7 linked regions of the Homo sapiens genome follow. The protein of the gene in region 6 interacts with the protein of the main gene of each other region in a pairwise test. Each region holds a gene or a part of one and is shown on either strand. Other genes may lie near its edges.

The links.
Region 1: the proteins of ZRANB1 (region 6) and TBC1D30 interact in binary tests that used the Homo sapiens proteins (3 or more experiments, as listed by UniProt).
Region 2: the proteins of ZRANB1 (region 6) and DTNB interact in binary tests that used the Homo sapiens proteins (3 or more experiments, as listed by UniProt).
Region 3: the proteins of ZRANB1 (region 6) and TSTD2 interact in binary tests that used the Homo sapiens proteins (3 or more experiments, as listed by UniProt).
Region 4: the proteins of ZRANB1 (region 6) and CDC5L interact in binary tests that used the Homo sapiens proteins (3 or more experiments, as listed by UniProt).
Region 5: the proteins of ZRANB1 (region 6) and MID2 interact in binary tests that used the Homo sapiens proteins (3 or more experiments, as listed by UniProt).
Region 7: the proteins of ZRANB1 (region 6) and FAM124B interact in binary tests that used the Homo sapiens proteins (3 or more experiments, as listed by UniProt).

What each region holds. Positions count from the first base shown.
Region 1 is NC_000012.12:64,869,647-64,873,146, reverse strand, and holds part of TBC1D30 (TBC1 domain family member 30), read right to left. Parts: intron 2,546-3,500; coding exon 2,339-2,545; intron 2,167-2,338; coding exon of another isoform or gene 2,107-2,166; intron 1-2,106. UniProt on the Homo sapiens protein: May act as a GTPase-activating protein for Rab family protein(s).
Region 2 is NC_000002.12:25,383,578-25,387,077, forward strand, and holds part of DTNB (dystrobrevin beta), read right to left. Parts: exon of another isoform or gene 2,785-3,500; intron 2,536-2,784; coding exon of another isoform or gene 2,486-2,535; exon of another isoform or gene 2,450-2,485; intron 1,634-2,449; exon of another isoform or gene 1,489-1,633; intron 313-1,488; coding exon 259-312; intron 1-258.
Region 3 is NC_000009.12:97,623,369-97,626,868, reverse strand, and holds part of TSTD2 (thiosulfate sulfurtransferase/rhodanese-like domain-containing protein 2), read left to right. Parts: intron 1-871; coding exon 872-1,188; intron 1,189-3,500.
Region 4 is NC_000006.12:44,394,206-44,397,705, reverse strand, and holds part of CDC5L (cell division cycle 5-like protein), read right to left. Parts: intron 1,366-3,500; coding exon 1,266-1,365; intron 1-1,265.
Region 5 is NC_000023.11:107,923,366-107,926,865, reverse strand, and holds part of MID2 (probable E3 ubiquitin-protein ligase MID2), read right to left. Parts: intron 2,524-3,500; coding exon 2,362-2,523; intron 773-2,361; coding exon 565-772; intron 196-564; coding exon 1-195. UniProt on the Homo sapiens protein: E3 ubiquitin ligase that plays a role in microtubule stabilization. Mediates the 'Lys-48'-linked polyubiquitination of LRRK2 to drive its localization to microtubules and its proteasomal degradation in neurons.
Region 6 is NC_000010.11:124,976,623-124,980,122, forward strand, and holds part of ZRANB1 (ubiquitin thioesterase ZRANB1), read left to right. Parts: intron 1-3,500. UniProt on the Homo sapiens protein: Ubiquitin thioesterase, which specifically hydrolyzes 'Lys-29'-linked and 'Lys-33'-linked diubiquitin. Also cleaves 'Lys-63'-linked chains, but with 40-fold less efficiency compared to 'Lys-29'-linked ones.
Region 7 is NC_000002.12:224,381,653-224,385,107, forward strand, and holds part of FAM124B (protein FAM124B), read right to left. Parts: intron 1-3,455.

The sequences.
Region 1 (3,500 bases), on a different chromosome or scaffold from region 6:
TTCCACTAAGTCTCAGAAGCTAAGGTCTTTTTGCCTCTAGTTCAAGTTCAATCTCTCCACCTGTGCTGCTAATCCTATCATATACCATCTCATCTAAAACCATGCTACTCAAACCATGGTTTCTGATATGGTTTGGCCATATCCCCACCCAAATCTCATCTTGTAGCTCCCATAATTCCCACGTGTTGTAGGAGGGACCCAGTAAGAGATAATTGAATCATGGGGGTAGGTCTTTCCCGTGCTGTTCTCATGATAGTGCAGAAGTCTCACAAGATCTGATAGTTTTAAAAATGGGAGTTTCCCTGCACAAGTTCTCTTTGCCTGCTGCCATCCACGTAAGATGTGACTTGTTCCTCCTTGCCTTCCACCATGATTGTGAGGCCTCCCCAGCCATGTGAAACTGTAAGTCCATTAAGCCTCTTATAAATTGCCTAGTCTCAGGTATGTCTTTATTTGCAGTGTGAAAACAGACTAATACAGTCCCCATGCAGCAGCACCAGCAGTGCCTACGGGCTTGTTAGAAACATATAATTTCAGCTCCATTCCAAACCTACTGAAACAGAGTGAATATTTTAGCAGATCCCCAAATGATCTGTATGCACACTAAATTTCAAGAACCAAAGCTCTAGAGCTTTGCCTTTGAGCAGCAATCTCTCCCTTAAAGAGAACCACCATCAACCATGATCTGAAGAAGGGGTCAGCAAACTTTTCCTGTAAAGGACCAGACTGTAAATATTTTAGCCACTGTAGTGTGAAAGGAGCCTTAGACAACCTGTAAACAAATGGGCATGCCTGTGTTCCAATAAAACTGTATTTACAGGCCAGGTGCGGTGGCCCACTCCTGTAATCCCAGCACTTTGGGAGGCCAAGGTGGGCAGATCACCTGAGGTCAGAAGTTCAAGACCAGCCTGGCCAACATGGTGAAATCCCGTCTCTACTAAAAATACAAGAATCAGCCAGGCATGGTGGTGCATGCCTGTAATCCCAGCTACTTGGGAGGCCGAGGCACAAGAATTGCTTGAACTTGGGAAGTGGAGGTTACAGTGAGCTGAGATTGCACCACTGCACTCCAGCCTGAATGACAGAGTAAGACTCCATCTCAAAACAAACAAACAAACAAAAAACTGTATTTACAAAAACAGGTAGTGAGCAGGATTTGGCCTACAGACCACAGTTTGCTGATCCCTGATGAAGGTACAAACCACTGGGCCGATTTAGCACCCTGAGCAATTGTTTACCGTCACACCCAAAGACTTGTACAGTGTAGTTAAAAAGGGACTGTACAAAGAATCAGAACACCTGTGTTCTAGCCCTGGCCTGACCACTCACTATAGCTATATAACCCTGGACAATTGCTAAGCCTTCCTGAATCACCATTTCCTCACTATTTGGAAGAAGATGGGACTATCTGTCCTTGCCTTCCTCATAGATTTGTTTTAAGGACAAAATGAGGAAATGTATGTGCCAATGTTTTTGAAACTTAAAGTGAAATTGTTCAGTTATTTTGTGACTGGTTTCTTAATGACTCAGGATAAAGTGAGAATCATCAAGAAGTCAACTATTCTTCTCTGATAAATGGAAGGTAAATTCAGTTTTTGTGCAGGATCAGTCACATGCTCACATGCCACTTTAAAAACATGTCAAATTTATATTTCAGTTAATTCTGGACAGGCACCATTTTCATTAAGATATTCACTTCAAGCAAGAAAAAACAACTCCCAAATCAGCATATATTAAACAATAAAGCAGACTGTTCACTGGGATTTTTGGAATTAAAAAGAAAAAAGCTTGGCAATCCTTGGAAAAGAGCATTTCCAATTGCATTATAATTGTGTTCTTCTTAGTATATTCCCAAGATACTTGCCATCAGCAAGGCACAGGTTTTTAATGTTTTTTTTCCCAGTTTCTCTGATACAACATCTGTTATAATATCACCTAAATGACTAGTATACAGCTTAATTTACTAGTGCACAGATGATTCTATATTCAGATGCATAAAATTTATGCTCCAAAATTTCTCAAGTCCAAGGATTGCATGGCTTTGCAACATTTTAATCATTTGTAAACCCTTCTCCACAGCACACACAGTAGAGACGTGTTTAATACCATCAACTGCCTGGTCCTTGGGGCCTAAAAAGAACCTGCAGTCTTTTTCTTCTTTAGAGCCTGATAAAATAAAATTTAAAATGAGATGCTAAATATGCTATTATGTCATGCCAGCTGTGTTGATGGATACTGAGCTACAGTTAGTAATTCCAAGGCCTTCCTAGGATTATTTGTTCTTCATTTTACAAGTTGAGATAGAGCTGAAATTGATTCAAATGAAGAATCACATTACCTGCCCTGATGTACACCTGATGAACCTGCTGCTGTTGCTTCTTTTTAATTCGAGAGTACTGCCGCTTCAGTGCATTGATATCTGTGGTCATGCGTTCCATCATCATACTGTTAAAAGCTGCATGGTATTCACTTCGACAGGAATTGATTGCTCCTGGACTCAGCTCTGCAATGTTATTAGATCTCAGACTCTGCTCCTCATTTGGCTCTGCGCTCGAAGGATGAGACATAAGGAGATGGTCGGTGGAGGGGAACAGGAGTAAATGGAAATTGATAACACTACAACTCAGTGCGGTATCTTAACCTCCATGAAATTCTAAACCACAGAAAAAAACGCATACTAGAGTTTGTCTAGTGCTTATTTTGATGTGCCCCTGAAAATATTTCTGCATTTTCTTATTAACCTAACTGTGGGTCTGACATGAGCTATATGGGTTCAGAGTTTGATTTTGTTACCAGTTTGTTAGCTATATAGACATAACATCAACTGCTTCCAGATGAAAATCACTGCCATTGTCTAAGATTTCCTTAGAAAGATATAACTCCTAATTTCTAAAATCACTGTACAGATTTCCACACAACGGCATGAGGATTTATACAGAATTGGTTTGTAGAGTTTAGACAGTCATTAAAAGTGCATTCTTCTTACATTAAAGGTAGTAACACAATTTATAAAATTATCAAGACTTCAGACCACTGTATCACTAGAATGAATGCTTTGTTCATTTAACAAACATTTCCTGTCCACTCTGTTGTTATATCGGATGTGGTGTCTGCTCCTGTGATAGCTACAACTAGCAGATTTGTCTCTTAAATAAAATTGAGATGACCTCCAAAAAAGAGAAACAATACTAGGTGGGAGTAACCCACAGACTACACAGGCCAAAGCGGGAGACAGCAAGCTTCTCCAGCACAATTTGTAAAACTGACATGGGAGCCAGAGTCAAAAAAAGACTGAGAGACTCCAACTATCCTAACATCTGCTGAGAGTGTTATTCAGACAAAGGCTAAACATCTCAGAAATTCATTTTTTTACTGTAATCATTTCTGTAAGGAGAAGAAAATTAAAAGAGAAACTGCTAATCAGAGCAAAATCAACAAGAAAGACTAATGATGAAATTTAGGAGAAAGTGATCATGTCATCCTAGAGCACAAAAATGCAC
Region 2 (3,500 bases), on a different chromosome or scaffold from region 6:
TCTACTTGTATCTACTTCCTGTATCCCAACTACCTATCCCAGGATCAGGAAATGAGGAAGCTCTTGGTGATCGACTGACCTTGTCACCTGGAAGGTAAAACCTGACTGTCAGATGGGAAAAGTAGGTACAGGGACCTCGGGTCCGAAAGCTCTGGGAAAGGTGGTGGCAGGGAGGAATGCAGAAACAAAGTGGGGGGCGGCTGATCCATGAGCTCGGGCTCCCCATTTAAACGAGCAGTCCTGCTGAGCTGCCTTTACCTCTGTCTTTCCCATTCTGCATCTTCTCTTCTTCTTCCTCTGCACCTTCCTCTGCTGTGAAAACAAGTCCAAGGAGGCCAGTGACCCTTCGGCACAGGACAAGTACAGAAGGAGGGTGAACAAAGCAACTGCTGAGGCTTGGGAGGAAACTCTAGCTAACAGCTCCTGGCTGCAGGCCTCTGAGGGTGCTTCAGCTCACCAGTCTGCACTTGTGCGGCCCACGCCCCAGCACTGCTGAATAGGAGCCCGTAAGACCACAGCCCAAAGGGAGCAGTGCGGTCACATCGCTCACTTTCCTGACCAGGGCTGGGGGCGTGCAGTGTGGGGTTGCGTGCCTCTGTTCTATGCCTGTCTGCCCTCAGGTGGTGATGACCAGGGAGACATCTAATGTCTTGCATTCAGGTTTAAGAAAGTGACCATACAATATATGGTGGGGGAATACCTAGATTAACACGGGGTTCTGTTAAAAAAAAAAAATTCCGTATGTTTTAGCTGATGATAAACTTAAAATGACCGCACAGTGCAAAGTGGCTATGTGGGAAGTGCTAATGCCGTCTAAGGTGCTTTTCCAGGGGACACTCAAGAGGGTCACAGATGCCTTGTGCTCTGCAGGGACAAGATCCCCTGTGATGGAGAGCAGGGTGCTGGGCCCTGGGCATGTACTTTGAATAGGAGCCTTGGAAAATGGCCACATCCTGGTATGGTCAAGCAGGCTGGTAAGAGAAAACCATGTCACGTTTGGAAAGGTTGAAGGAATTGGGTGTAGCAGTCTACAGAGGAGAAAACTAGGAAGGGTTGTCATTTGCCATCCAACCCGTGAAAGGCGAGCCTGCAGAGGAGGGACTGAGCTTATCCTGGGTAGCTTGAGAGGACAGGGATAAATCAGTTACAGAAAGTGAGATTTTGGCTCCCCACTGAGGAAGAAGTTTCCAGTGATTAGAGTTGATCATGAATGAGCTCGCTGGAAATATTCAGAGGACTGTTTTATTGGGTGGCGAGTTGGATTAAATGACTTCTAACATCCTTTACAATTTTTTTCTTTTCTTTTCTTTTTTTTTTTTTGAGATGGAGTTTTGCTCATTGCCCAGGCTGGACTACAGCGGCGCGATCTTGGCTCACTGCAATCTCTGCATCCCAGGTTCAAGCGATTCTCCTGCCTCAGCCTCCCGAGTAGCTGGGATTACAGACATGCACCACCATGCCAGGCTAATTTTGTATTTTTAGTAGAGACGGGGTTTCATCATGTTGGTCAGGCTGGTCTTAAACTCCTGACCTTAGGTGATCCACCTGCCTCAGCCTCCCAAAGTGCTGGGATTACAGGTGTGAGCCACTGTGCCTGTGGCCTCGATCCTTTCCAATTCTAGGATTCGATTATCTGTGAAAAAACTTTATAAAGATGAGGACTACAAGCTATGTATATACAGTATGTATACACTGTATAGAATATATGTAAAGATAATCTGAGTATGTCCTCTCATTGGAACAAAAACCTGTCAAGTCACTGTCAAGGAGACAGTAAAAACATGTTGGTGATGGGTGAAGCTATTCCATTCACTGAGAAATTGGCACCCTCACATGTAAAGGGAGTTTATGTCTGCATGTTAGAGGGATACCGTGCCATGTGTGGCTTTGGTCCACGTCTACCTACAGGCTTCAGTGACTGAGAGGACAGCATCAGGGAAAGGGGCCTCTGGGACTCTGGGTTTGCTATCTTGTCCTGGAGGGGAGTAAGATCTCTGGCTTGATGCTCTGAAGACCCAGGTTCTAGGACCAGCTTTCCCCCTTCAAGCTGCACGACCTTAGGCAGACCACTTTTCTGATAAGCACAGGCTACATCTCTAAAGTAAGGGACTGGACAATGTGCTCTCTAAGGCACCTTCCAAATTACACTACATAATTTTGTTGAAACCATCCTTTCTTACTATGAGACACTGCTGAGGATTCCTATAAGCTTTACATTTTTGTGAAGCTATTTGGTCTCTATGTGCTTTCCACTTAATGGTATTTAATGACCTCTCACCCTAGCACGATGAACGCAGAAGCCACTTATTTTGCATAAACTCTAATAAGTGGCCATGAAGTACAAGTGTAGTTAATTCCCATGGCCCGAAATTCCCTGAGAAATTTCCTCTAAAAGTGGGATTTCTGACATCTGTGGGGAGCTGCATTAGGGAAAGCGCCTTCTAATCACCTGTGAGGTCATCCTGAAGGCTGTCGCCTCTTCTGTTTATGTGTACAGAGCGGGGCCGTGCTTCTGATGGGGGTTGAGAAACAGTGCTAGAATGGAGAGGGTGGCACCATCAAACAAGAGAGGCAGCGTCTGACCTTAACTGACTGGAAAGACGAAGCTGGGCTATACACTCACTTTGGTCTGTATGAAAACAGGCAGACTTGAGAGCAGAGCTGGGGGCTCTGTCCAGTCCCATGACAACCCTAAACATGTGAGCTTTCTCCTACGAAGGGCTGAAAAATACCCAAGGCTTGCCTTCCCTAAGAGTGTTTGAATAAGTGTATGTGTTTGAATCGTCCGTGGAAAAACTGCTTTATCTTTTTATTTAATAATCCTGTTAAGCTACTTCAAGGTATTTAAAAGCACTACATTAGGTGGAAAGAAACAAAAGAGAGCCATCAGTGTGAGTGACCTACAGCGCTTAGGGAGGGAAACCATTAGTTTAACACAAAACATGGAGACCCCACCGCTGTGAAATCGTTAGTGACTCTCTGGCCCCTACGTAACTGGTAGAGTCATGGGGATTCCTGGAGATAGGAGGATACGTGAATGGCCTTTTATTTTCTCTCTCTTTCCTGGGTTTTATGTAAGGTGAAATGCCACGAGGTAAAGGTCTTTGGGAAGTCACTGAATTGGTGAGGTGATGGAGAGACTGAGAAAGAAGTCACAGATGAGCTGAACACAAGGAGCAGAAGAGGCGACAGACTCAGGTCATGAACTTCAGGTGAAATCAGAGCCTGGTCACGGACAAAAGGAGGGAATAGGTTTCAAAAACAAATCAAACAGGAGAGAGCAGAAAGGCAGCAGGGGAAGGTCCAGAGCTTTCCTGGCTGATTCCGCTCCAGACCTCCAGGGAAGTTTCAGAATGAGGTGGTCGGTCAGGCCTAGGGAGAGAGCGGCTGTGGACAAAGTACAGATGGAAGACGAGGTAAGTGAGGAAGGGGCCTGCCTGCACTGAAAGGTCTGAATTTCTCTACATTCAGCTTGCTCCACAAGATGCACTCCTGAGATA
Region 3 (3,500 bases), on a different chromosome or scaffold from region 6:
AAAAATACTGATAGAACTCAGTGAGGCTATGGATAAAATGGCACCCACATGCTTTTCTGGTTAGAGTATAAATTGGTACATTTTTCCTGGAAGTCACTATTACAGATTAAAATTTCATGTTCTTTGACCCCTCAATTTTTATTTTAGATATTCTAAGTAGGTGGTTAAAGATATAGAAAGATAGATGCATGGAATGCTCATTCAACATGGCTTTTAATTGCAAATATTAGAAACAATCTAAATGTTCATCAGTTGGTAACTGGTTAAGAGAATTTTCTGTTTGATTGTTTTACAATAAGCATAAGTAATTTTTATAAAAACAGTAATATTATTTTCCAAGAAGGAAGATATTTTGGTACGTTTCTTCCTGGTCTTTTTCAATGTACTTTTTAATGTGGTTAAGATTACATTGCATAAGCAATTTTATCCAATTTTTTTCACTTAATATTATATCATAAAATATTTTTCCATATAACTTAAAACTGGCTGCTTAATATTCCATGGTAAGCATACTTCATAATTTACTTTCCATATTCCTTTCGAAAATAACTAATAGTGTTATTTGTGATATTTTAGGCCAAACTGTATTATGTATTTTCCAGTGTGACTTAGTCTTATATCCTGAGAATAAAATTATGATGCTGAGAGTTATTTAACCTCCTCAATATAAAGCCTAGTTTTAATTTCTCTAATAGTCTCTTCTAAAGCTTACTAATAAGAGAAGTGTTACTTCTCAGAGAATTGTATAACATAATGGAACATAAAACTAGAAGCCCCTGTGGAAAGATAATCTAAAGAATCTTAGTGAGACTTCTATTAGCCATAAACCTAAGGTTATTTAACAGTGTTAGCATTTGAAATCTAATTGCAGGCCTTTGCCCTTTTTGTCAAAACCAAAGAAGTTCCAACAAAAAGGAGTTTTGAATGTAAAGAAAAATTGTGGAAATGCTGTCGGCAGCTATTCACAGACCAAACCAGCATCCATAGACATGTGGCAACACAACATGCTGATGAAATTTATCACCAGACAGCTTCTATTTTAAAGCAACTGGCTGTGACATTGAGCACCTCAAAGAGTCTTTCGTCTGCAGATGAAAAGAACCCTTTAAAAGAGTGCCTTCCACATAGCCATGACGTGTCTGCTTGGCTCCCTGATATAAGCTGCTTTAACCCTGATGAGCTGATAAGGTAAGATTTTCATTCTGTATTTTGGTTTGATTTAAAGTATTTTTCCAACCACAATGAGATACTACAATTCACCCATTAAAATGGCTAAAGTGAGAAAGACCAACTGTGTCAAATGTGAAATGAGGATGTGGAACAACTGGAACACCCAGTCACTGTTGGTGGGAATGTAATATGGCACAACCACTTTGGAAAAGTGTTCGGCAATTTCTTAAACATGCATCGTTCCTGTGGCCCACTCCTGGGTATAATACCAACAGCAATAAAAACATATCCACAGAAAGCCTTGTACAAGAATGCTCATAGCAGTTTTATTCATAATAACAAAAAACTGGAAACAACTGCAAATATCCATCAACAGGAGAATGAATAAACTGGTATAGTCATGTAAGAATATTGCACGACAATAAAGTGCTATGAACTGCTAATATTCAAGAACGTATATGGGTGAATGAGAAAATCCTTATGCTGAGTGAAAATAGCCAGACAATACATATTTTCTGATTTCATGTACTTGAAGGCAAAACTAATATATGATGATAGAAAGGTTCTGGCAGAAAGTTTGGGAATACACAAGAGATTTTTTGAGGTATTGGAAATGTTCTGGTTTTGATAGTGGTGTGGATTACACAGGTATACTTGTGTCAAAAATGATCAAACTTTACACTTAAGATCTGTGTATTTCACTTGTAAACTGTGCCATGCTTTAAACATTTTTAAATAAATAGGGCAGGAAAAACTAAGCAAAAAAAAGGGGGGGTTTCTTTTAAGCTAGATATCATTATCTGTATGATTTCAAATATACGTATCCAGAAAAATGCATCATTTACTAGGTTTATTGGGGAATGTAGCATTGCACATAGGGAATTTTTAAGAAAGCAGGTAAATGTAGCTTACATTTTAAAGCATCTAAACTTTCTTTGATTTAACCTTTTTTTTTTTCTGGAGTCTTTCAAACTGCATTAGACTCTTCTTTAATTGCATAATTAAACAGAGTATAGTGAATGTGATTGAACTTTTTGTGAGTGCTTTAATGCCATCAGGATGAACTTAAGTAGGATGCCAAGGTATAAAAGTTTGTCTTTTTACTAAGACGGCTCAGACTTACTCTTCTGTTACCTCTCCTCCCTCTCTTCTAATTCTAGATCCAAACTCTCTGTATTATTGCTATGTACCAAATTCAGCTTACAGCAGCATAGTTGGTGTTACTAGCTCAGAGTCTCTCATGAACTTGCAGTCATCTCATTGCTTGACTGGGGCCAGTAAATCTGTTTCCAGGTTCACTCATGTGGTTGGTGGCAGGCTTGTTTTTTCAGTGGCTTTTAGTCAAAGGCCTCCATTCCTCTCTGTGGGGGTCTCTTCATAGGCTGCCTGAGTGCTCTCATGACATGGCATGTGATATGTGAGAGACAGAGACACTTCAAGACAGAAACCACAATCTTTTATGACCTAATCTCAGATTGCCATACCATCACTTTTTATTGATGCTATTGGTCACGTAGACTAACCTCAGTACAGTCTAGGAGAGAACTATGCAAGGGTCTAAATACCAGGAGGCAGGATCATCAGGGATCATCTTGGAGGCTGGGCACCATACCTCAGAGTTGTTACTTTTTAGTGTGTATTACCTAGCAGCACTGCCTGCACTTTACCTATTCTTTCAGGATCTTAACTACTTGCAACAGCTAGATCCTTAAGGCACAGAATTCTAGAGGCCTAAGTTAGGCCAATAACATGCATACTATATATAGCCAAAGACCATAGCCTGTGCAGCAGCATATACCCAGTCAGTTGACATTGTTTGTGAGGTTTTTTCTTTTTTTTTTTGAGACAGAGTCTCACTCTGTCACCCAGGCTAGAGTGCAGTGGTGTGATCTTGGCTCACTTCAACCTCTGCTTCCCAGGTTCAAGTGATTCTCCTGCCTCAGCCTCCCGAGTAGCTGGGATTACAGGCATGCACCACCATACCCAGCTAATTTGTATTTTTAGTAGAGACAGGGTTTCACCATGTTGGCCAGACTAGTCTTGAGCTCCTGACCTCAGGTGATCTGCTCACCTTGGCCTCCCAAGTGCTGGGATTACAGGTGTGAGCCACTGCATCCAGCCTGTTTGCAAGGTTTCTTGGAGACCATTCTACATATTCTTTAGGGAGGAGAGGTAAAGAAAGAAAATTATATTATTTTCAAAAACAAGTGGGAAGACACAGAGACATTAATGATTCCTCTACCCTATGTAATGTCAGAGCTTAAAAAAGGGTTTTGTATTAGTCTGTTTTCATGCTGATAAAGACATATCCAAGACTGGGCAATTTACAA
Region 4 (3,500 bases), on a different chromosome or scaffold from region 6:
TGTTTCACAGCCAGTGCCTTCCCAATACCAATCAAGGAAAGTAACTAATTGGCAGTCATACAAAAGACACATAATCTTGTGTGTCCTACAGTCATCTGACTCCAAAATAGCTACAACAAATGAAGCTCTCATATGCCAACAGAACACACTCAACATACTGGATAAACTGGGCATTACCTCTGCCATAGCTTCAATTTTTTTTAAATATGGTTTTCTATAAATATTCTGAAATGGTTGGGGGAAAAAAATACAAGATAGTTTCAGAGAAATAAAGAAGGTAAAGAATACTAGCGAAATAGGAACTGGACAATTCCAATTATTATTCACCCAACGGGTTAATAAATCATGCAGTTTTATTGGTCCTAAGGATGCCTAGACTAATTATTGAACTATGAATGGAGACAAGCACACATTGTGAAATAATGTATTTGGTCTTCATCCGTTTCCAACAATGCAACTCCTAAAATCCTGGGACTCTTCCAAGTGAAAAGTGTCTTTCTGCATGTTAATGAGTTGACTGATAGCTGGCAGTCACCAGAAAGACCACGGCAGGATTAGAGGGCTTGGGACTTTCAGCCACAACCCCCAACCTCAGGGGAGGGGAGAAGGGCTGAAGGTCGAGTTGATAAGCAATGGCCAATGATGTAATCAATCTTGCCTATTTAATGAAGCCTCCATAAAAACCCAAAAGGACAGAGTCTGGAGAACTTGTGGGCAGCCAAATACATGGGGGCTTCCGAAAAGGTGAACAAGAACACACCCACTGGCTGGGAGGGTGGCATATCCCAACTTCAATGGGACATAAGCACCTGCACTCAGGACCCTTCCAGGCTTCACCCTGTGTATCTCTTCATGGGGCCGTTGATTTGTATCCTTTAAAATATCCTTTGTAAATGTGGGTGTTTCCCTGAGTTCTGTGAGTCCTCTAGCAGATGAATGGAACCCAAGGAAGGGGCAGTGGAACCCAGCTCGCTGGTCAGAAACACAAGCAAAATAACCTGGGGTTTAGGGTCAGCATCAAAACTGGGGTTCAGTCTTGTGGGACTAAGTCCTCAACCTGTAAGATCTGGAGCTATCTCCAGGTAGACAGTATTAGAGTTAACTGAATTAGAGGACACCCAGCTATCCACTGCAGAATTGATTGCCTGATTGCTGGTGGAGAGGGGAAAAAAAAAAAAAAACCACATATCTGGTCACAGAAGTATTCTGTGTTGATTGTTATGTGAGAAAAACACTTTGCTTTTTATTCCTATATCCACACATACCTTGCTTCTTCCAATTGTTTCTCTCTTGCTTTCCTCTTGGCCTTCTTTCCCTGAGTATTAGCCAAGCGGGCTCTGGCTTCAGAAAGCATCTCAAGTTCATCTGCAAAAATTAAAAGAAGAAAAACTAAGTATTTTCTTAGTTCTTACATACTCTAGAAGCAAGGTATGTAAGAGACACTCTATTGCTCAAAATGAGAAAAAAACATAAAAATACTGATTTTATGGTGTAGCATAATGGAAACAGCTTGAGTTTTGAAGTCAAAGAACCTAGGTTAAAAACCAGGCCCACCACTTGCTAGCTATGTGACCTTAGTCACTTACTTACCCTCCCTAAGCATGGTTTCCCTATAAAATTCGAATAACAATTCCTATTTCACAAGGATTTTGAGAAGGGCTAAGTAAAACGAAATATGTAAAGCATCTCGCAAGCATTCATTAAACAGTGGCTACAATTATTGTATCCTTCATTATTATCAACTAACTGGCACAGCACAAATTGTGAAATAGGGTAAAAACTATTTAATTATGAGAGAACAACTATCATTAGATACTTTTTTTTCCCCTCAGAACAATTTCTCTCATCCAATACATTTTTCGTGGCTCTATAGAATGGAATAATACATGCCACTATTGATGCCTTAGAACAATTCCTATGCAAGGCTGTCCAACTAAATCACATGGGAACTTGTAAAATACTCAGATTCCAAGATCACTGCTCTTCCCGTGCCTCCCACACCACCCCAGATGTACTGACTCAGTATATACAGGAGAAGCCCTGATATTTCTATTTTTAAATGCTCCCCCTGTGATAATGATGCAGCCAGCCTAGCCACAGCCTGCCTTTGGGAACCACTATGTTCAAACTTTACATTTTAGAAACTTAACAAATATTCACTGAGTGCTTCACAACAACCCTGCTAAGGTAAAGCAGGTATTAGTATTCCCCATCTCGCAAGAAAGGGAATCAAAGCTCAGAGAGATTTTATGACTTGTCTAAGGTCAAACAGCTAATAGGTGGCACACACGGGTTGAAAATCCAATTCCTGATTCTGTTAACTGATACATCATACTTTACATATTTATAGGGTACATGTGAGAGTTTGTTACATGCATAGAATGTGTAATGATCAAGTCAGTATATCTGGGGTACCCATCACCTTGAGTATTTATTTCAGACCTCTCTTCCAGCTACTTTGAAATATGTAATACACTGTTGCTAACTATAGTCACCCTATTCTGCTATCAAACATTATAACTTATTTCTTTCCATCTACGTTTGTACCCATTAACCAACCTCTCTTAATCCCGCTCTCCCACCCACACACCATACCCAGCCTCTGGCATCTATCACTCTATTCTAACTCCATGAGATCAACGCTTTTAGCTCCCACATATGAGGAAGAATATGCAGTATTTGTCTCTCTGTGCCTGGCTTATTTCACTGAACATAATGACTTCTACTGCCATCCATGTTGCTGCAAATGACATGATTTCATTGCTTTTTATGACCAAATAGTATTCGTGTGTGTGTGTGTGTGTGTGTGTGTGTATACCATTTTTTTTTTTTTTTTTTTTTTTTTTTTTTGAGACAGGGTCCTGCTCTGTTGCCCAGGCTGGAGTGCAGTGCTTGATCTCAGCTCATGGCAAACCCAGCCTCCCGGGCTCAAGTGATTCTCCCACCTCAGCCTCCCCAGTAGCTGGATCTACAGGCATGCGCCACCACACCTGGCTAATTTTTGTATTTTTTTATAGAGGCAGGGTTTCACCATGTTGGCCAGGCTGATCTTGAACTCCTGGGCTCAAGTGATCTGCCCACCTCAGCCTCCCAACGTGCTGGGATTACAGGCGTGAGCCACCATGCCCAGTCCACATTTTCTTTATCCATTCACCCATTAATGGACACTTAGGTTGATTCCATATACTTTCTATTGTGGAATTCCTGATTCAATGCCTCCCAGAATCACTGTTAAGTCTCCATCACCGTCTCACAGGTTGCCTTCTCACACAGAATAAATAACTTGCCTATAGTCAAATAAGTAATTAATAGGAGGACTGAGGTCCAATATTCTGACTTGATGTCTCTCTCCATGGAATAGGAATGAGAAACAGGATCTTCAAGGGCTCACCTCTAGCCTCTGAAAAATCTACTCAGTAGAATTACACTACTCAGTTTTAAAGACAGGGTCTCGTTATGCTGCCCAGGCTGGCCTCCAACTTCTGGGCTCAAGGGGTTAT
Region 5 (3,500 bases), on a different chromosome or scaffold from region 6:
AAAGACAGCATATTGTTGTCATAATCCAGGAGGACACCCAGACGCTTCAGGTGTGGGGGCACATCCACCAGCATTTCCTTGTTGTTGTGTCTCACCACGAAGTTACTATTGCAGCGAGAGAAGACCCATGAGGAGGCATTCTTGCCAATCCATTCATTCTTTGGAGCTGATTTGTAGGCAATGCCAATTGCATACCTGTGAGACAGTGGAAAGGAGAGAGAAATAAACATTTATGAATTATCTGAGTTGTGTAAGACACCATATATGATATATAACAAATAGGATATATGTTTATTCCTTAAATAGTTTACACTTAGATGCATAATGCTGATATCACTAGAGCTTTAAAAAGTTAGCAATTAGAGCAATGTGGCAGTTTCCATCTCCTAGCCCAGTATATTTTCCATTATTTTATTAAAAAGCTGGCAAATTTTTCTAGGAGTGGTTTTCATCACATACCTTTTAACCTTGACTTATTGGTATTATGGTTGTGCTATAGAATTGAATCTCCTAGGAACCTAATGACAGAGGACAGAAAAGAAAAGGAAAATGGGATCCACTCACCATGTTGAGGAACCCATGACCACCTCCCAATAGTGGCAGCCACTGTCAATGAATATATTTCCTGCTGCCCCATAGCACCCTGTGCCACTAAACCTCTCTGGGGTGTGGCTCTTCTTTAGAGAGCTTTCATCCTTCTCCATCTGCAATCCATCATTGGAGATCTTCAACTTCTTGTGAGTCATTTTGGGATCCAATTTAAAGGGTTGGCCTGAAAAATAAGTAGAAAAAAAAAAAAGAAAAAGCACTATGAAGTATCTTAAAATTCTACCTTTTCCACCAGCATCATCACTGGCAGGGTATGCTCGATAACATGATCACTCTTGGTCCAGTGCAAGTTGGCTGCTGTTTAAATTTTATTAAGAAAACAGGCCAGAAACCAGAGTTTTCAATAAAATAAGAATAAAGGCCAATCTCCCATAAAACGACCTTCATAACGGCGTTTATTTTCCCACTGTGGGAAAAAATGTGGATCTCTCCTAAAAGCAATTTGAGGGAAGTCATATTCCAAGCAAAGAGGAGCTAATAAGCTGTCCCCCACATCATATATTATCAAAGTAAAAGGGAGTGCTCAAAGTTTCATGTTCTCAAATATGTTTTGTACTTTGCTTAATTTCAGTGGGTTGTTTGGGATTTGGGTAGATTTTAACAGAAAGAGTGTTATGATGTCTGAGGTGAGGGGAATTGATGTAATTGCTGCTTGATGGCAGAACCGGAAAACCCTGAGAACTCAGCAACTGAACAATTATTTTTGCCCTCTTACAATTGGGATGTAAATAACATATAATTAGGCAATTTTGTTAGAGTGACTGTTGCATCATCAATGATCAGAGAAAACATTTATTGTGTAGGATCATTCACAACAGATAATTCTTTATAACCATATGACAAAGGCATTGTTACTGAGGGACCAGTTGCTGGGTGTGGCAAGAGATTTTTATACAGAATGCTTCTGTGACAGACACTGTTGGCTAACACATTACCCTTTCCCAACTTTTTCTCTCTTACTCACTTTCACTATAGAGGCCGGAAAAGCTAAATACTCAATCTTCCAGCCTCCCTTACTGCTAGGGGCGGCTAAGAACATGGAAGCAGATGGAAGCAGAAGTCAGACAGAGCAGGGGAAAGTTCTAGGAAAGTTTTGGATTTCCAGATAAAAGGGATAACCATTATGTGTACCAACTCTTTCCTCTTTCCTATCTTGAGAGGTAATATGACATCTGAAAGTTGCAGTGGCCATCTTGCAGCCATGTGGCAAGAAGCCAATGCACACAGGGAGAAGGAGCCTGCATCTTTTATGACATCGCAGAGCAGCTGCATTAGCCCTGAACTGCCTACCTTCAAACTTCTTCCTATGTGTATGTGTGAGAGATAAAATATATACTATTCATTTAAACAATTAACAAACGCTATTTGTTAAGCTATGTTAGTTGCACTTTTTGTTATTTGCTGTCAAAAGCATTCCTAACAGATATGGCTTCTCTGTAGTAAGATTTTACTAGATTATCACAAATAATGCTCTTTTATGCAATTGTCCCCCAAATATAAGGGGTGGAGTACAGAGAAAACTCTTCACTAACATCCTCCCAAGCTAACAGTCTTTTTGTGCATATCTCTGAGTCCACAAATCTCCCATGGGCACCAACAAACTCCTTGCCCAAAGTACAAACTACAACAGTATAGCTCCTCTACCCAGTACCACTGCTCCCCATGCACTGCTGTGAGTGCCTGCTCAGGCTGTGTACTCCCCTGGCATGGAGAAGAAAATTGATCTTTCCTTTTGAAATCACCACAACGTACTGTTTGTTTTTAGTCGGGTAGGTTCACTGTTCCGGCTGCCGGCTTGGTTTATGGCTTTAACGATGAAGATGTAGCGAGTCCCGCTCTGGAGTCCATGCACTGTGTAATGGTTCTGTTTAATGTTGGGAACAATCATCCAGCTGTCTACTGAATTATACAGGCCTGTAACATGGGGAAAGACAAGGACATTAACCAGCAGGTAAGAGAGACAGAATGAAAAACACACTGAAAATTCATCATAAGCCACCCCCTCAAAAGTGAATTCATTTTGTTTTCTTTTGAGTCTTAGAAGATGTAATGAGATGAACCAGGGCTTATGATTCCACTATTTCATTACTCCCATAGAACTAGGCTTAGGCCAGGCTCCTTGCTTGTGGCAATTGAATGGAACTACTAGCATAAGTTAGGTTATTTCAATTTCTTTCCCAGATAACACAGGAATGGCTACTATACAGAGTCACGGAATCATCACTCTTATGGAGTCTCTGGATATTTACTCCAAACGTCCACTCCTCTGAGAGCTGAGTTTGGTCTTGTATGGATGGAGCAATCCTGTGCAGAGCAGGGAAACATGGAAACTCAGCCAAAGGGACACATAGATACTGTATTTCCCTTATTTTACAAATGGGAAACTAGGATTGAGAGAAGAAAAGTGACCTGCCCAAGGCCACAGATAGTCAGTGATGGTGCTGAGAATAGAACCCTGGTATTTTTAAAATGGTAGCCCAGTGTTCTCTCTACTACATCACAGTTCATGGGGTGAACAACAATGTTCTTTTGTCTCTGCAAGGTAGTGAGGCTCTCAGGGCTTACAATTCCACTCTCCTACTCCATCCTTACCCTTACTTCCCAAACTAGCCGGTCTCCACAGTACCGTAGGGAAGCCAAAGAGATGACATGATAACCAAAGCAAGATATCATCTCCCCACTATTACACAACACATTCTGTTGTGTGATTCCCATGTTCATTTTGGGTTGAGTGGTCCAGGAGCACATTGTTATCTGGAATCTTCCTCCCTTCCAAGTAGGGAAAGGGATCAGAGAACTAGGCTTCTGCTTTTGATATATTTTAGACTGCAAATATTAACTTAAACAGGGGAAATGTAAATAATTAAAACATGTATTTGGCAAGCTTTCGG
Region 6 (3,500 bases):
GTGCAGTGGCATGATCTCGGCTCACTGCAACCTCTGCCTCCCGGGTTCAAGCAATTCTCGTGCCTCAGCCTTCGAAGTAGCTGGGATTACAGGTGGCGCCACCATACCTGGCTAATTTTTTGTATTTTTAGTAGAGATGGGGTTTCACCATGTTGCCCAGGCTGGTCTCGAACTCCTGAGCTCAGGCAGTCCGCCCACCTCGACCTCCCAAAGTGCTAGGATTACAGGCGTGAGCCACCGCGCCTGGCCTTTTCTTTGGTGGTAATTTCCTGATCTGTTGAAAGGCCAAAAGTACACTGTGGATTTTAGAAGTGATGTCTTTTTTTTAGTGATGAGGGTTTTTGGTGGTGGTGTTTGTTTTTTGAGAAAGGGTCTTGCTCTGTCACCCAGGCTGAAATGCAGGGGCACGATCTTGGCTCACTGCATCCTTCACTTTCTTGGGCTCAGGTGATCCTCCCACCTCAGCTTCCTATGAGTGGCTGGGACTGTAGGAGTGTGCCACCACACGTGGCTAATTTTAAAATTTTTCTGTAGAGATGAGGTCCTCACTGTATTGCCCAGGCTGGTCTTGAACTCCCGGACTCGAGTGTTTCTTCTGCCTTAGCCTCCCAAAGTGCTGAGATTACAGGCATGAGCTACTACTGCACCTGGCCTTTTTTTTTTTTTTTTTCTTTTTTTAAAAAGACATTTGTGGTGAGTAAGAATTGCTTTGGGGTTTATGCCCACCTGTTCCTCAGAGCTGGCTATGGATGATCTTATGAGTGAGTTGTCACTAATGTTTGTATCGGGACTGGAATTCTCAGATGGTTGCAAGTCATTTGAGGTCCCAGAAGTCCAGCATAGAGATAGGGAGATTGTGGGCAGATCTCTTGAGCCTAGGAGTTCAAGACAAGCCTTGGCAACATAGTGAAACCCTGTCTCCACCAAAAAATACAAAATTTAGCCAGGCGTGGTAGTGTGTGCCTGTAGTTCCAGCTACCTGGGAGGCTGAGGTGGAAGGATTGTTTGAGCCTGGAAGGTTGAGGCTGCACTGAGCCAAGATCATGCCACTGCACTCCAGCCTAGGTGACAGAGTGAGACCCTGCTAAGAAAAAAAAAAAAAAAAAAAAAAAAAGATGGTTTGGTGGAGAAATACAGTCTGATGTTGTAAATAGGCTAGATAGGGAGTGGCTACTAGGGTGAGAAGGAACTAGGCTGTTTGTTTACAGCCACTGGCAAGAGTTGTTGCAGCAGAACTTTTAGTCCATAGTCCTGACTCTTAAAGGATGCTTCAGGAGTGAGCACCTAGGGCTGGCATATGGACAGGTGTCCCAGAACAGCATGGTTTGGCATCACCTCCTCCAGTCCCTGCCACCGGGGAGCTTTGCCCGATGGTTTACAGTTCAGGCATAGGAAGCTGCATTGATTACAGTGATCACACAGACATCCTTACAGTATTGGGGGGTGGGTTGGGGTGAAAATTAGTGGTTAGATAGTAAGTGTTGTTGCCATGGATTCGGGAGATCAGATATACTAGCCCTAAGGAATAACCCATACATAGTTCTTGTGTTGAGTTGCATTAGGTTTGTCCACTGGGCCTGTCATGTGACCAGTAGAGAGTAGAGTGAGCAGCCGTGGGTTTTCTAGGCCAGGAGAGGAGGAGCCAGCATGTAGCTTGTGTAGTCTCCTTTTAAAGATGCTCTTTGCTGAGGTGCCTTTTGCACTTAATTGAAATCAGCTGGAGTGAGATGTTTTCTTAAGTCATATAAGATACATAGTAAGAACTGAGAAAGCAATTTTCTTTTATTTGAACCCCTCCACCCGTCACTTCAAGATAGGCTATTTGTGTTTGTAGCTAGCTGTGCTGTTCTCTTGGATACCCGTGATTTTAGCTGACTCAGGTTCTCAAGTCTGAATATATTGTACTTGCCTTTCAGTGACATGCCAACCCAATTTCCCACGGGGCAGGTGGAGGCGTTTAATGTTAATTGGGGAAAAAAATCAATATAAGTCTTTTAGAATTATTCCTTTTTTTCTTTTTGGAGACAGGGTCTTGGTCTGTTGCCTGGACTGGAGTGCAGTGGTGCGATCTTGGCTCACTGTAACCTTATACCTTGTGGGCTCAAGCAATTCTCCCACCTCAGCCTCCCAAGTAGCTGGGACTACAGGCACATGCCAACATTCCCAGCTAATTTTTTTTTTTTTTTTTTTTTTGTATTTTTTTGTAGAGACGGGGTTTCGCTATGTTGCCCAGGCTGGTCTCAGACTCCCACCTCGGCCTCCTAAAGTGACTGTTTTTGTTATGAAGAATTATCGGCCGGGCCTGGTGGTTCAGGCCAATAATTCCAGCGCCTTGGGAAGCTGAGGCTGGAGGATTGCTTGAGCTCAGGAGTTCAAGACCAGCCTGGGCAACATAATGAGACCCTGTCTGAAAACAAAGAAAAACACAATGAGATACTACTTCACATGCACATAAATGGCCATAACCAAAAAGACAAATGATAACAGTGTTGTTGAGAATTTGAAGAAATTGGAATCTTCATACATTGCTGATAGCAACGAAAAATGTTCTAGGTCTTGAACTCCTGGGCTCAGGTGATCTTCTAGCCTCAGCCTCCCAGTTAGCTGGGATTGCAGGCACATGGGCTCCTTGTGATTTTGATTTGCATTTCCCTATTTAATGATGATACTGAGTGTCTTTTCATGTGCTTATTGCTCATTCCTATAGCGTCTTTGGTTTAATATCTTTCCACGTCTTTTGCTCATTTTTAAATGGATTGTCTTAATATTGATTTGCAGATGTTGTTTGTATCAGGTCCCTTATTGGATATCTGCTTTGCAGATATTTTTTTCTATTCTGTGGCTTGTCTTTTCACTTCATTAGCAGTGTCTTTTGAAATCACGAGTCTTTAATTTGATCAAGTTCAGTTTATCAATGTTTTTCTGTTATTGCTCATGCTTTTGCTGTTGTATCTGAAGAGATTTTTGTCTAGCCCAAGGTCACGAAGATTTACTCCTGTGTTTTCATAGAAGAATTTTATAGTTTTAACTTTTACATTTAGGTCATTTTTGTTTTACATTTTGAGGTCATTTTTGTTTAAAGTGTGAGATGTCCTAAATTCACCTTTTTGCATGTGGATACCCAGTTGTTTCGGTACCTTTAATTGAAAAAAACCCTTTCTACATTCTATTGCCTTGGCAATTTTGTCGAAAATTAGTTGACCATAAAAGTAAGGGTTTGTTTCTGGACTCTTAATATTTTTCTATTGATTTATTTTTCCACTGGGCTATCGTTATGTCATTACCAGACTGTCTGGATGATCATATCTTTGTAATACATTTTGAAATCTGGACTGTAAGTCATTTGACTTTGTATTTCTTTTTCAACATTGTTTTGACTATTTTGAGTCCTTTGGATTTCCATATACATTTTAGGATACAGCTTTATCGATTTTTGTAAAAAAGACAGCTGGGATTATGATTGGGATTGCATTGAATCTGTAGATTTAATTGGGGTGATG
Region 7 (3,455 bases), on a different chromosome or scaffold from region 6:
CAAGAATGAACCCTAATGTACCCTATGGGCTTTGGGTGATGGTGATGTGTCGTTGTAGGTTGATCAGTTGTAACACATGTACCACTCTGATAAAGGATGTTGACAGGAAAGGAGGCTCTTTTCGGGGGGAAGGTTGTATATGGGAACTCTCTGTTCTTTCTGCTTAATTCTGCTGTGAACCTACCACTGCTGTAAAAAATAAGGTCTATTTCAAGGGAGAAAAAATAATGATACATATTTATCTTACAAGGCAAGAAGGCAGAAATGAGGACAGTGAGAAAACAGGTCTAGAAATCAGTAAATTCTCTCTCTCATACACACACACACACACTCACACAGAGCATATTTGTTTGTATAGATGACGCAGAGTACATCTCAATTTTCTGATAGAAATGGTGAGGTGCATATTACCAAGCTGCAAAAACAAACACACAAAAAAACAAGGACTTCCACTGATTCTTTTAGAATAGAAGTTGGCAAATATTTTCGGCAAGGAGCCAGACAGTAAATATCTGAGGGTTTGCCGGCCATATGGTCTTTATCCCAACTATCCAACTCTGCTGCAGAGCAGCCATAGACAATATATAAATGAATGGCTGTGTTCAGTAAAACTCTATGTATGAACACTGAAATTTGAATCTCATATTTTTTATGTGTCATGAATTTTTTTCCAACCATATAAAAATAGAAAACTATTTTTAGTTCTCAGGCCACAGTTGACCAAGCCCTATTCTAGATCAATGATTCCCTGTCTTTTTTTTTTTTTTTTTTTTTGAGATGGAGTTTTGCTCTTGTTGCCCAATCTGGAGTGCAATGGCGCAATCTCAGCTCACTGCAACCTCCACCTGCCAGGTTCAAGTGATTCTCCTGCCTCAGCCTCCCTAGTAGCTAGGGTTACAGGCATGCACCACCACGCCCAGCTAATTTTGTATTTTTAGTAGAGATGAGGTTTCTCCATATTGGTCAGGCTGGTCTCAAACTCCCAACCTAAGGTGATCCATCCACCTTGGCCTCCCAAAATGCTGGATGACAGGAGTGAGCCATCTCTCTATCTTAAGAAGTTTTTTTCCAAACAATTTCTTACCTGGAAGCCCAAAATATGAAGCAATCTAATTAGCGCAGCCCTGGTTGACGTACAGAGGGTAGCCTCTGCCTACGGGACCCCCTCTCTAGTTCCCCAGGGCTTCACAGAACCAGCTTGAAAACCACTATTCTAGAATATCTAAATTCTACCCCTGAGCCAAGCCAGTTCATTAGAGCCACACACACCTGAAACCCCTATCGCAGATGTGCTTGCACTGAACCACAGCTGAGTGCAGTGCCCCAGAGTGTGTTGAAGAGAGCTTCCACCAGCATCAGATACTCTCTCTAGGGGCGACACTGTTGAAGGGATGCCCACTGCACCGAAGGACCTGTCCTTATGCAAACCCATAGGAGAAATTTCTGTTCCCAAACTTTGCTGCACAAGGGAACATCCTGGGATCATTAAAAAACAATGATGCCTGCTCCCAGCCCATGACCTCCTGATTTCATCAGGTCAGAGTACACCTGGCTGTCAGAGCTGATAAATCTCCCCCAGTAATTCTAATGTGCAGCGAAGTTTCGGAACTACTGCCATGGACCCAGAAAAGCTAGGCTTCGAGTAGTCAGTTAACTTGCGGTCGTTGTGAGTCTGTTTCTTATCACATACACCCGACCTCCTCCTCCATATTTCTGAAAAATTCTTTGCCTAATTTCATTTTGCTATCTCTCTCTACATTTCCCTTTGCTCTAATTCCACAGCTCCGCCCTCCCTCCCCTCCTTTCTTCCTTCTCTCCTTCCTTCCTCCTGCCCTTCCTTTCCTTTCTTTCCTTTTCATCTGTTTGTTTTTTTAAAAAAGTCTTACTATAAAAGTAGTAATTTATCACCATAAAAATAATTTCATTGTACAAATGTATAAAATAAAAAGTAAAGCCTTCTCCCTATCCCAACCTCAAATCACCCCCAAATTCTCACTTTCCAATGAAGACTATTTGCTTATCCTTTCAAAATCAGGAGGAAAAAATACTATCTCCGAAATGTCAGCTGGGGTTTCCCTTCCCCTGGAGAACAAACTCCCTTAGTCCTTCAAAGGGCCAACTGCCATCATTGCCTCTTGGAGAATCATTTGACACTGTACCCTTGTATCATAATGTACCTTTTTAATTGACCCAATGACATCTTTTTCTTCTAGAAATGGAAACTGGCATGGATATTTCCATACTGAGAAATGGTTCAGGGTTGATATTAGATTATCCAATCTGGAGAAAGAAATCAATAACTTTGACTCTGGGGCTTGTATTTCATTCTCTAGCAACTGTGAACACAGAGAGAAGCCTGAGTAATCGCCCCTTGCCATCTAAATCAATGTCAGATCATAATGAAATTGGTCCTGAAGCCCCAACCAGTGCCGAGACATCTCAGGGCAGCCAGGAAGCGCCCTCCTGGGCCAGCCCAGCTCACCCCTCCACTCCCCTCTGTCACCCAGTCCCACAGCCCCTCCACTGGGCCTTCTCCACCTGCAAATGTCCCATCTTTGAAAGATTCTATTTAAGCCAGGCATTCTGAGGCCATGGGCTCCGGCACTCAATTCCCCATCACATCTGCTCTTCAACATCAACACTCCCAATCCCCAGCTTCTCCCTGTCAGCCCCTCCCATCCACACTGCCTTTCAGAGTCAATTTGAGTCCAAAGACTATCACTTCAACCATTTCTTCACCAATACCTCCAACTCCCCTCACTATTCCCATTCTGTCACAGACTCCCACAAAATCTCCCCACCTTTCATCCATCTACCTGCCCACATTTTCTGAACATGTGTTCAGGATGCCACAGAAACACATCGGTCTGTGAAATGGGTGCCCCATGATGGCGTGGTTTCCGGCCTCTCCCAGGCTACCCGCCAGTCTGCCTGCTTCCTTAGTCACCTCTCTCCATTCACCCAGCAGCTGTTCAAACCTTCAAAACTGTCCTGAAATCTTCAGCAGCACCATCGCCCCCACTCTCTCTCATCAGGTGGTCTCACCATCCAGATTATCAAGGAAGCAGATGCTGTCACCAGTTAGCAACACTCTCACTGCTACCGCGAAACTTACCTGCAGCTTCACCATTCTCTCTAGGTGAAAGTGACCGGTCCCTGGGCCAAGACTCCCATCACCTCCCGCCTTCTTGGTGACCCTGACCTATCAATTATTCATTTTTCCCACTTTCTTATCTTGGATGTTTAATCTCTCTCCCTCTCCTTCTCTTTCTCTCTCTCTGCCTATTCCTTTCCAACAGCAATTAAACTTGTTCAAGTCTCGTGTCTTGAAAAACACATTCTTTCCACCCTCTCTTTCCCTCCAGGTTTCTCTGTCCTCCCCTTCACTGTCAAACCTGTATATAAAATTTGTGTAGTTATGTTTTTCTACAAACCTCCCCTTATTTTCTCTACCC